Regions from separate parts of the Homo sapiens genome. Here region 1 is linked to region 2. The links come from fine-mapping of genetic effects on gene expression. A gene starts in region 2. The other region holds a variant in brackets. All regions are shown on one strand. Distances are between the middles of the regions. Region 1 overlaps SYT3 (synaptotagmin 3). Region 2 holds the start of C19orf81 (chromosome 19 open reading frame 81).

Evidence for each region. PIP is the estimated chance that this variant, and not a neighbour inherited with it, causes the effect. A credible set is the group of variants that fine-mapping cannot tell apart.
Region 1: its variant is the best candidate, but not a certain one, in a credible set for the expression of C19orf81 in prostate (GTEx, PIP 0.69).

What each region holds. Positions count from the first base shown.
Region 1 is chr19:50,625,036-50,630,400 of GRCh38, reverse strand. SYT3 (synaptotagmin 3) reads left to right here. Exons shown (of 11, transcript NM_001160329.2): 5 at 230-617; 6 at 889-1,107; 7 at 4,384-4,504; 8 at 4,837-5,008; 9 at 5,107-5,239. Among named protein-coding and RNA genes, the nearest start is that of SYT3, 12 kb to the left of the region's middle. The variant C/T (reference allele first, on the strand shown) is at 2,749.
Region 2 is chr19:50,646,349-50,651,713 of GRCh38, reverse strand. C19orf81 (chromosome 19 open reading frame 81) reads right to left here and starts at 2,269. Exons shown (of 5, transcript NM_001195076.2): 1 at 2,203-2,269. The coding sequence starts at 2,269. It also overlaps a transcript of SYT3 not described here. RefSeq lists enhancers at 3,336-3,385, 5,008-5,302.

The DNA.
Region 1 (5,365 bases), 21 kb after region 2:
GAGGGAGGGAGGGAGGGAGAGAAGGAATGCCCCCCAGATACCAATGGGGAATCTGAGGCTCAGAGAGCACAGTGGCTTCCTCAAGCTCACACAGTGAGCAAAGGAGGGGACTTGTGGCCACCTGGCTGGGGGATGGGGGGAAAGGCAGGGAGGAGTCTCCCAGGTCTCTGCATGCAGTCGAAGATCAGAGCCACTGACCTCACCTTGGTCTCCCCCCAACCCCCTACAGGTACCCAGCCCTGCCCCGACCCCTCACCCAGCAGACTCTGACCTCCCAGCCGGACCCCAGCAGTGAGGAGCGGCCACCTGCCCTGCCCTTACCCCTGCCTGGAGGCGAGGAAAAAGCCAAACTCATTGGGCAGATTAAGCCAGAGCTGTACCAGGGGACTGGCCCTGGTGGCCGGCGGAGCGGTGGGGGCCCAGGCTCTGGAGAGGCAGGCACAGGGGCACCCTGTGGCCGTATCAGCTTCGCCCTGCGGTACCTCTATGGCTCGGACCAGCTGGTGGTGAGGATCCTGCAGGCCCTGGACCTCCCTGCCAAGGACTCCAACGGCTTCTCAGACCCCTACGTCAAGATCTACCTGCTGCCTGACCGCAAGAAAAAGTTTCAGACCAAGGTCCGGAGCAGCGGGCTGGACACCGGGTTCCCACAGAGAGGGAGCTAGGGCTCTGGACTCCCGGGTCTGAGGGAGGAGGGGCTGGGGGCCTGGACTCCCGGGTCTGAGGGAGGAGGGGCTGGGGGCCTGGACTCCCGGGTCTGAGGGAGGAGGGGCTGGGGGCCTGGACTCCTGGGTCTGAGGGAGGAGGGGCTGGGGGCTGGACTCCTGGATCCTGTGGAGGAGGGGCTTATGGGCACGGTGTCTGTCTCCTGTCGCCCACCACCACCAGGTGCACAGGAAGACCCTGAACCCCGTCTTCAATGAGACGTTTCAATTCTCGGTGCCCCTGGCCGAGCTGGCCCAACGCAAACTGCACTTCAGCGTCTATGACTTTGACCGCTTCTCGCGGCACGACCTCATCGGCCAGGTGGTGCTGGACAACCTCCTGGAGCTGGCCGAGCAGCCCCCTGACCGCCCGCTCTGGAGGGACATCGTGGAGGGCGGCTCGGTCAGTGGCCCTCTCCCCTGACCTTCCCCTTCCCAGGGCCCTGAGACCCCCCGGGTTGCAAGCCCCCTGCCCTCAGAGTTCATAACTTCCTCACTTCTTGTCCCCACATTTTTCTGTTAAAATGTATCACACTGGGGAAGACTGCAAACTTACAGGCAAGAATAGAGAATGAGCCGGGCGCGGTAGCTCATGCCTATAATCCCAGCACTTTGGGAGGCCAGGTGGGCAGATCACTTGAGGTTGGGAGTTCGAGACCAGCCTGGCCAACATGGAGAAACCCCATCTCTACTAAAAATACAAAAATTAGCCGGGCATGGTGGCACATGCCTGTAATCCCAGCTACTTAGGAGGATGAGGCAGGAGAATCGCTTGCACCAGGAAGTGGAGGTTGTGGTGAGCAGAGATCATGCCATTGCACTCCAGCGTAGGCAACAAGAGCGAAACTCCGTCTCAAAAAAAAAAAAAAAAGAACAGATAATGATACAGTGGACACCATTCCTCTCCTCAACATCGCCAAATGTTAGCATCAGGTCTGGATCCGATTTTCCAACCTCTCACCCGCTTTGCCATAGGATGCCTTCCTGCCTCAACCCCATGACTTCTCCCCTCTCACCCCAGACTTCTTACCTTCCTAACTTCCTGACTTTCCAATGACTGGACTTCTGGAAGCCCCAGTCCCTCTCTAATCTCTGAACTTCTGAAAGCCCCAATCCCTCTCTAATCTCTGAACTTCTGAATTTTCCCAACCCCTGACATTGGAACTCTTTCATATTCTGACCCTCTGTTTTTTCATGGTCCCTGCCCGAATGCTGATAGCTTGATCCCCCAGGCCTCAGCCATCCTGGGATCCCCAATATGCAGACACTCCTCAGTTCTCCCAGCATCCAGATTATAGGGCCCAATGGCTTCTTCCTTATTCCTTGCGACCCCTGCCCTCTGGTATCTCATTCTCCCTGTACCTCCAATCCCTCCCCAGCCCCATTCTTAGGTACTTCTTGTGTGTGTGTCCTGAGCTCTTCTGCCCCACCAAATCTCAGATCCTCAACTCTACAGCGCCCCCGCTCCAACCTAATTTGTGGATTATCCAACATTCCAGTTCTCTGCCAATCTGGGGTAGCTGTGTGTGTGTTGTGGGGAGGGCGGCCTTCATATCAGGAGAGGACTAGACCTCCTCAAGGTTCTTTCCTTTTCTGAGCCTCAGTTTCCCCATCTGTTCAATGACAGATGTCCAGTTGAGCTGGGTGCCAGGTAGGCTTTTTGGGTAGCTCTTTGGGTAGGCTTCTTCATGGGGCCCTCCCCAGCCTGCCTGCTTGGCCCCCAAGCCCAGCCTTTGAGATTGAAGTGCCCAGTTCCAAGGTCCCAGGGCCCCTGTGTATTCCACCAGCTCCTACTCCCAGTCATCACCCATGGCAGCCCCATGCCAGGGCCTTCTCTCTGTATCCATGCTGGCCTAATTCTTGTGCTCACCCTTCTCATTTTCTCTCTCCATCATCATCACTTGAGGTTTTCCTCACTCATTCCATTGATTCATACATTCTCTCTCTCTCATTTTTTTTTTTTTTTTTTTGAGACAGAGTCTCTCTCTGTCACCCAGGCTGGAGTACAGTGGCGCAATCTCAGCTCACTGCAACCTCCACCTCC[C/T]GGGTTCAAGTGATTGTGATTCTCATGCTTCAGTCACCCAAGTAGCTGGGATTACAGGCACCTGCCACCATGCCCGGCTAATTTTTGTATTTTTAGTAGAGACAGGGTTTCGCCATGCTGGCCAGGCTGGTCTCGAACTCCTGAGCTCAGGTTAACCGCCCACCTCAGCCTCCCAAAGTGCTGGGATTACAGGCATCAGCCACTGCACCCAGCCTTCATTCATTTCTTCAACCACTGTTTTTTTCAGGAGCAGGGCCTGGGGACCCCAGGCAGCCCTCGGCAGCTCCAGGTCTAGATGGTCGGGCCTTGTGTCAGGGGCCAGGGTTATGGGGAGGCACAGGAGGAGCCTCTGCAGGGCTGTGGGGGATCTGGGAGCTTGTGGAACGAGGGGAGGCTCAAAGGCCAAGGAGAGATAGAGGGAAGAGTGTTCTGGCAGAGGGACAGCCTGGGCAGATGCCCTGAGGGGAATGAGTAGGGAGTCCTGGGCACAGTTGGGAGGCCGCAGGGCTAGGCCAGGTTGGTCAAAGCTCCCAGCTAGCTCCAGCGTGGCTCCAGCCTGTGTGTCAGGGTTGGGGGCAGTCCTGGAAACTTCGGTGGAGGTTGATGAATCTCCTGCCCTCTCTCAGGCTGGTTTATGTGTGTGTGTCTGCTTGGTCTTTGTCCCACTCTGTCTGAGTCAGCCTCTCTCTCTCTCTCTCTCTTTCTCTTGGTGCAGGGAGTAGGGTATCTGAGTCTAGGTTTCTCTCTCGCTCTCTGGTCTCTGCCCCTCCACTCTAATTCTAGGTAACTATCACTCTCTCTGGGTCTTTATGCACCCCCAACCCACTGTCTCTGTCCCTCTCTCTCTCTGGGCCTCTGTCTCTCTCTGAGTCTCTCTCTATATATATCTCTCTCTCTTTCTCTCTCTGGGTCTCTGTACCCCCTGTCTCTGGGCTTCTGTCTCTCTCTGGGTCTCTATCTCTCTGTCTCTGGGTCTCTGTCCCCCTCTCTGTCTGGGTCTCTGCCCCTTTCTCTCTCTGGGTCTGTCCTCCTCTCTCTGGGTCTCTGTCCCCCTCTCTTTCTGGGCCTCTGTCCTCCTCTCTCTCTGGGCTTCTGTCCTCCTCTCTCTCTGGGTCTCTGTCCTCCTCTCTGGGTCTCTGTCCCCCCCCCTCTCTCTCTGGGCCTCTGTCCCCCTCTCTCTCTGGGTCTCTGTCTCCCTCTCTTTCTGGGTCTCTGTCTCCCTCTCTCTGGGTCTCTCTCTGTGTCTGTCTCTGGGCCTCTGTCCCTCTGACTTGAGAACTTTGCCTGTGGGTCTGTCTTTCCAGCTGTATCCCTCCGTGTTTTGGCTTCTGTCTCAGTCTATTTCTCTTTGTGTTTTCTCTCTCTCTCACCTTCTCTGTCTCTCCCCTCCTCTCTCTCTCCCCTCACTCATGCTTCTTCCAATCTTTCCTGCAGAACAAATAAGCTTTGATGGTCATGGGCAGCTGTGGCCAGGGAATTACTGGGCCTTGTCCCAAGAGTCAGATTGCTAAGTGGATGGGAAGCCTGAGCCCTGGATGTCAGGGTGTAAAGCAGGAGGCTCCGACCGGAGAGAAAATCAGGGAGAGTTGAAGAGGGGCTGAGGCAAGATATCGCTGACCTTTTCCCCAACTGCAGGAAAAAGCAGATCTTGGGGAGCTCAACTTCTCACTCTGCTACCTCCCCACGGCCGGGCGCCTCACCGTGACCATCATCAAAGCCTCTAACCTCAAAGCGATGGACCTCACTGGCTTCTCAGGTGAGGGTCCTGGGTCTGAGGGAGGAGGGCTGGGGGCCTGGACTCCTGGGTCTGAGGGAGGAGGGGCCAGGGGCCTGGACTCCTGGGTCTGAGGGAGGAGGAGCTGGGGATCTGGACTCCTGGGTCTGAGGGAGGAGGGGCCAGGGGCCTGGACTCCTGGGTCGGAGAGAGGAGGACCTGGGGTCTGGACTCTTGGGCCTGAGGAAGGAGGGACTGGGGGCCTGGGGCCCCGGACCTCTGGGTCTGAGGGAGGAGGGGCTCGGGGCCTGGGGTCCTGGACCCCTAGGTCTGAGGGAGTGAGTCTCTGTTCCTTACTTCATTGCTGTTCCCAGACCCCTACGTGAAGGCCTCCCTGATCAGCGAGGGGCGGCGTCTGAAGAAGCGGAAAACCTCCATCAAGAAGAACACGCTGAACCCCACCTATAATGAGGCGCTGGTGTTCGACGTGGCCCCCGAGAGCGTGGAGAACGTGGGGCTCAGCATCGCCGTGGTAGACTACGACTGGTGAGGGGCGCGGCCCGGGCGGGGGTCAGGCAGGAGGGCTGGGGTGGGGACAGGCCCTCCCACCACCCTCCACGGTCCTCACTGACCCCAACCCCCAGCATCGGGCACAACGAGGTGATCGGCGTGTGCCGTGTGGGCCCCGACGCTGCCGACCCGCACGGCCGCGAGCACTGGGCAGAGATGCTGGCCAATCCCCGCAAGCCCGTGGAGCACTGGCATCAGCTAGTGGAGGTGAGTAGGGGTCCCACACCGACCCCTGACAAGCACCCGTGCACCCTCGGCCCCTTCATCCATGCAACGAACGCCCTGCATGTTCGTGAGTCGCAGAGCCAGGCGTCCTAGGTTTCAATCCCTGCT
Region 2 (5,365 bases):
TTTTTCCTTTGGTGACAGAGTCTCACTGTGTTGCCCAGGTTGGAGGGTCATGGTGCAGTCATAGCTCACTGCAGCCAGGAACTCCTGGGCTTAAGGGATCTTCCTGTCTCAGCCTCCCAAGTAGCTGGTTAAATTTTTTTAACAGGCATCTCAGAGGGCCCCTGTGTGCCTTGGAGGATGCTGGGGACCAAGAGATGAATGAGACACACCTCTGCCCTTTCAGAACTCTCAGATAAAGGGCAATGTGTGTTTCAATGAAAGTGTTACAAGGTGGAGGGAAAGCCCAGTCTCCCGGTCTAGGGGCAATCAGGGAAGGCTCTCTAGAGGAGGTGTCCACAGTGAGACCTAAAGAATAAGAAGGTATTTACCAAATAAAGAGGTGACAGAGAGAAGGATGTTTCCCATGAAGGGCCTAGCATGGGCCAAGGTTTTTGAGCAAAAGAGAAGAGAGTCACCTGCAAGAACTTCCCAGAATTCCCTTGAGCCCCAAGACTAAAGAGCGCTTATTGCCATTGGAGGCTATGAATGATCTGTGAGATGGCGTGTTTCACGTCTCCTCTCCCAGCATGAGAACAAGCCAGGCCGTTTCATCCATTAGGCACTACAGGCAAAATGCTTGGGACCCAGGGGCTTTCTAATGGCCTATGCTGAAGTTTGCAACCTGATCAACTAAAAAATGTGATTGGTTCCACAACGCTGCAAAGAAAACAGCAAAATCGAAATGAACAAACGTCGATCAACAAAACTAGCCAACTGGTCGACTCAACTCCACTTGACTTTTCTGGAGCTACATATAAATTACATGTCACGTGGGTGCCTCAGTCTAGGCTAGAGATGGTGCATTGTGGGGTCTCCAAAAGAAAGATGCCTTCAAAAGCACTAAAAGAGACCTAAAGGCAGAGAAACAACGCCTGTTTTGCCATCAGGGCATTTGTTCGGCCTCGAAGGCTGAGGTGGGAGGATCACTTGAGCCAGGAGCTCAAGGCTGCAGTGAGTTTTGGTTTTGGGTGTTTTTGTTTGTTTGTTTGTTTGTTTTGTTTTTTGAGACAGAGTCTCCCTCCATCACCCAGGCTGGAGTGCAGTGGCACAATCTTGGCTCGCTGCAGCCTCTGCCTCCTGGGTTCAAGCGATTCTCCTGCCTCAGCCTCCCTAGTAACTGGGATTACAGGCACCCGGCACCACACCTGGCTAATTTTTGTATTTTTAGAGATGGGGTTTCACCATGTTGGCCAGGCTGGCTGGCCTTGAACTCCTGACCTCAGGTGATCCACTCACCTCGGCCTCCAAAGTGCTGGGATTATAGGCGTGAGCCACCACACCCAGTCCTGAGTTTGGTTTTCTATTACCTGCAGTTACATGCATCCTCACTGAGATACTACTCCATAAATGTTGAATGAGTGTAACTGCATGAGCTGTGCTACAGCACAGAGTGCTAGCAGGAAGTGCTGGGCTAGGAGCCTGAAGTTGTCAGCAGGGGTCAGACCACACAGGGCCTCAAAAGCCAGGCTGGAGCTTTGGGTCTCTGTCCTAGAGGTGACAGGAAGCTAGGAAGTGTTATGAGCAAGGGACAGCCAGGATCACTGCAGGAAGTCAGAGAGACCTCTCTGGAGCCATGGAGGGATAGGTAGGAGGAGAGAAACTGGGGACCAGGGAGGAGGTGAGGAGAGGGTCCACATGGAAGAGGATGAGACCTGGGACAGGGCTGCGGGGACAGAGAGGAAGGAATGGGGAAGGGAGAGTCAGAGGGCAGGAAGATAGGGCCTGATGGGCTGTGGGAGGGAATTGTGGGAGGTGGAAGGATGGCACCAGTGACTGGGTTGGCGGTGGGGCCATTTGAAAATGGAAACCAGGAAGGAGGAGAGCAGCTTTGGGGGAAGATGCTGAGCTCAGGGTGGGAGACAAGACAGTGAGGTTACCTAGGAGAAGAATGGCCTCAGAGGTGTTGCTTAGGCCCCAGAGGCTCATGGGAAATGTAGTTCTGAGTCCAGGGCATTGGCCAAGGAACTGCAGAGGCTCATGGGAAATGTAGTTTGAGGTCCAAGGGGGCCGCTCTCCAGGAATCTGGTGAATCCAGGAATGCTAGGGATGGCTTTCACTTTGGAGTGCCAGTGACTCGCTTAAGGCCACACTGTGAGCCCGGGCTACTACGCACTGCCTGGATGGAGGAAGTCCACCCCTTCCCCCAAAGACACAGCTCAGTACCTGCCTTCCTGTGCATGGTGGGGCTGCCCATGGCAGGGAAGCACACGGGCTCCACCTCTGGCTGCATCCTGGGAAGGTGGGTGAGGGATGTCTCAGGAAGGTGGCAAGAGAGGCTCTGCCTGGGCCACCCACCCCAGCTCCTTCTCCCCACCGCTGCCTCCTCTACCTCCTCTTTGAAGCCCCGGGGTAGAATTACAGAGGAACTGGAAGGCTGAGACCATGTGGAGATCTGGGTTCCCCTGACCTCAGGGACTCCCTGTGTGCCCCAATCCCTTCTTTCCCATTTCCCTGTTTTTCCTCCTATCTCTCTCTGTCTCCTAGAGTCCCTTTCCCCACCCCTCTCTCTCCACCTCCCTTCCTCATTCTCTCCCCATCTCTCTGCCCCCCTGCCTCCTCCCCTCTGTCCCCACGTCTCCACCACTCTTTTGCTTGATTTCTCTGCCCTCCTCCTCCCTCCTTCTCTCCTGGGCTCCATCTCTTCAGTCTCCATCAGTTTCCCCAGCATCTCCCCAGGCCCCCGTCCCTCCTTGTCTTCATCGTTTTCTGCCTCTCCCTAACCCCGTCACCCTCTCTCTGTCTTCCCACCTCTCACCAGTCTCCTTGCCCCATCTCTATCCTCTCCTAGCTGCCTCCACTGCCCCCTTGAGGCCCCCTCCCCTCTGTCATCCCCTTTCTGTTCCCACTTGCCCTCTGCTCATCCCTGCCCCAGCCAGGAACTGGTTAGAAACAGGCGAGATTCCAACGAAAGTGGGTTCTCTAGTGGGGAGGGGATGGTGGGCAGGGGGCCTGGTTGCCATGGTGCCTCCAGAGGGAGGGGGAGGGGTGGGGGCCTGGATTCCTGGGTCTGAGGGAGGAGGGCCTGGGGTCTGGACTCCTGGGTCTGAGGGAGGAGAGGATGGGGGCCTGGACTTCTGGGTCTGGGGTCTCACGGGGCCTCTCGTGCTAGAGAGAAGGGGTCTAGCCGTGTAGGTGCCTGTTCAGCATCCCTTTCTCTGGGTCTGCAGAGCTCTCTGCAGGAATTGTGGGAGAGGAAGCTGGACCTTCGCTTATTTGTTTTGTCTGTCCTTGCAGTCTTTGTCTCTGTTACTTGTATCTCTTTCTCTTCCTCTTTCTCCACATCCAGATGGTCTCTGGACTGTCTGTTGTTCCTGCTTACTAAGTATTCGTTCTAGGTGGTGGCACCTTGATTTCCTCAGTGATTTGTTCAGTGGCGAGCTTAAGAATCAATCTAGGCTACAAAGTCAACCTTTGGACTTTTGCTGGACCTGTTAGAAAACAGGGTTTTTCCCCTGTGGTTTTGGGGCTGGTCAGAGCCAGGGTTGGAGCTCTCGGTGCTACCACATCACCATGCAGGGAGATAACTTGCCTGAGAGCAAAGACAACACGAGGGAAGCATAGCCCAAAGATACAGACAGTTGGATTCCTGGAGATGATTGGAACACCTGGATCCAGCAATGCCTGAAGCCCTCATCCAATCAATAAACTTCCTTTTATGCTTAGGTCAATTTGATTTGCGTTTCCGTTATTAGCAATTAAAACAGTCCAGATTGAAATAGTCTTACTCAGTTCTGGGGGCCCTGACCCCCTCCTGGCATCTTCACATCTGCTTCTCTCCCATCAAGCTGTCTTCCATTTCCAGCTGGCAATTTTATCTCAGCGGGATGGAGGACATGATTGCCTTGACCACAGGCACACCTGACCCTCACAGCCTATCTGTCTCCAAGTTCTATTCCTTCTGCCTCTCCTTCCTCTCCTCTCTACTCCCATAGCTCTAGCAGCCACTCAGACCTCGTCCTCTCCTGCTGGGACCCTTGCCCCAGCCTCCTTTTTTGTTTGTTTGTTTTTGAGACAGGGTCTCACTGTGTCCCCCAGGCTGGAGTGCAGCGGTATAACAGCCTTGACCTCCCAGGCTCAAGCAATCCTCCCACCTCAGTCTCCCGAGTAATGGGGACCACAGGCCCACACCACTACGCCCAGCTATTTATTTTTTTTAAGATGGAGTCTCACCGTGTTGCCCAAGCTGGTCTCAAACTCTGGGGCTCAAGCAATCCTCCCACCTCAGCCTCCCAAAGTGCTGGGATTACAGGTGTGAGCCACCACACCTGGCCCAGCCTCCTGGCCGCCCCATCCTCCATTCTCTCGCCCTCATTCCTCTCCCCACAAGTGAGGCTCCAGAGTGGTCTTTCTGTGCCCGGAACTGACCTGCCCCTGCCCTGCTCACGGCCCTCCCAGGGCTCCCCAGTGCCTTAGACAAACTTTCAGCCCCTCACCTGGACTGAAAGAGCTGCATGATCTAACCTCACCTCCCTCTCCCAACCTCACCCCTCCAAACATTCTCCACCTACCCTTTATTAATTATTTTATATAAATAATCCCTCCCGCAGCCAGGCGCGGTGGCTCACACCTGTAATCCCAGCAGTTTGGGAGGCCGAGACGGGCGGATCACGAGGTCAGGAGATCAAGACCATCCTGGCTAACACGGTGAAACCCCGTCTCTACTGAAAATACAAAAAATTAGCCGGGTGTGGTGGCGGGCACCTGTAGTCCCAGCTACTTGGGAGGCTGAGGCAGGAGAATGGCGTGAGCCCGGGAAGCAGAGCTTGCAGTGAGCCGAGATCGCGCCACTGCACTCCAGCCTGGGCGACAAAGCAAGACTCTGTCTCAAACAAAATAATAAATAAATAAATAAATAAATAAATAATCCCTCCCACACATCCCACCTTATTTCTGTCTCCACTCTTTCCATATGCTGTGTCTTCTGCCTGGAATGCTCTTCCAACCTTTCCCCATGTCCCCAAATGCCCTCATCTTTTAATAAGAAGCTCAAGTGCCCTCTCCTCCAGGAAGCCCTCTCTGACTCATCCTCCTACCAGTTGTGTTTTCTGTCTCCTCCCTCCGACTGTTTTTTTATCTGCTCCTTCTCCAGACCTCTGAACACTGCCCTCCGCCCCATCTGTCTTGCTCAGAAATTTGTTTCCTGACTCATCTCTGGCTCTCTGGCATCACGCCACAAGGGCCAGGCTTCTGGGAAGTTCAGGACACATGAGTTGAATGAATACATGATTATTTCCCTCTATTTCTGTGACCCACACTCAGTAGCCCCCTAACCCCATCTGCCCTGTCCCTCCTGGTCTTCACGAGCCAACATAAGTTGAAGAAGAGA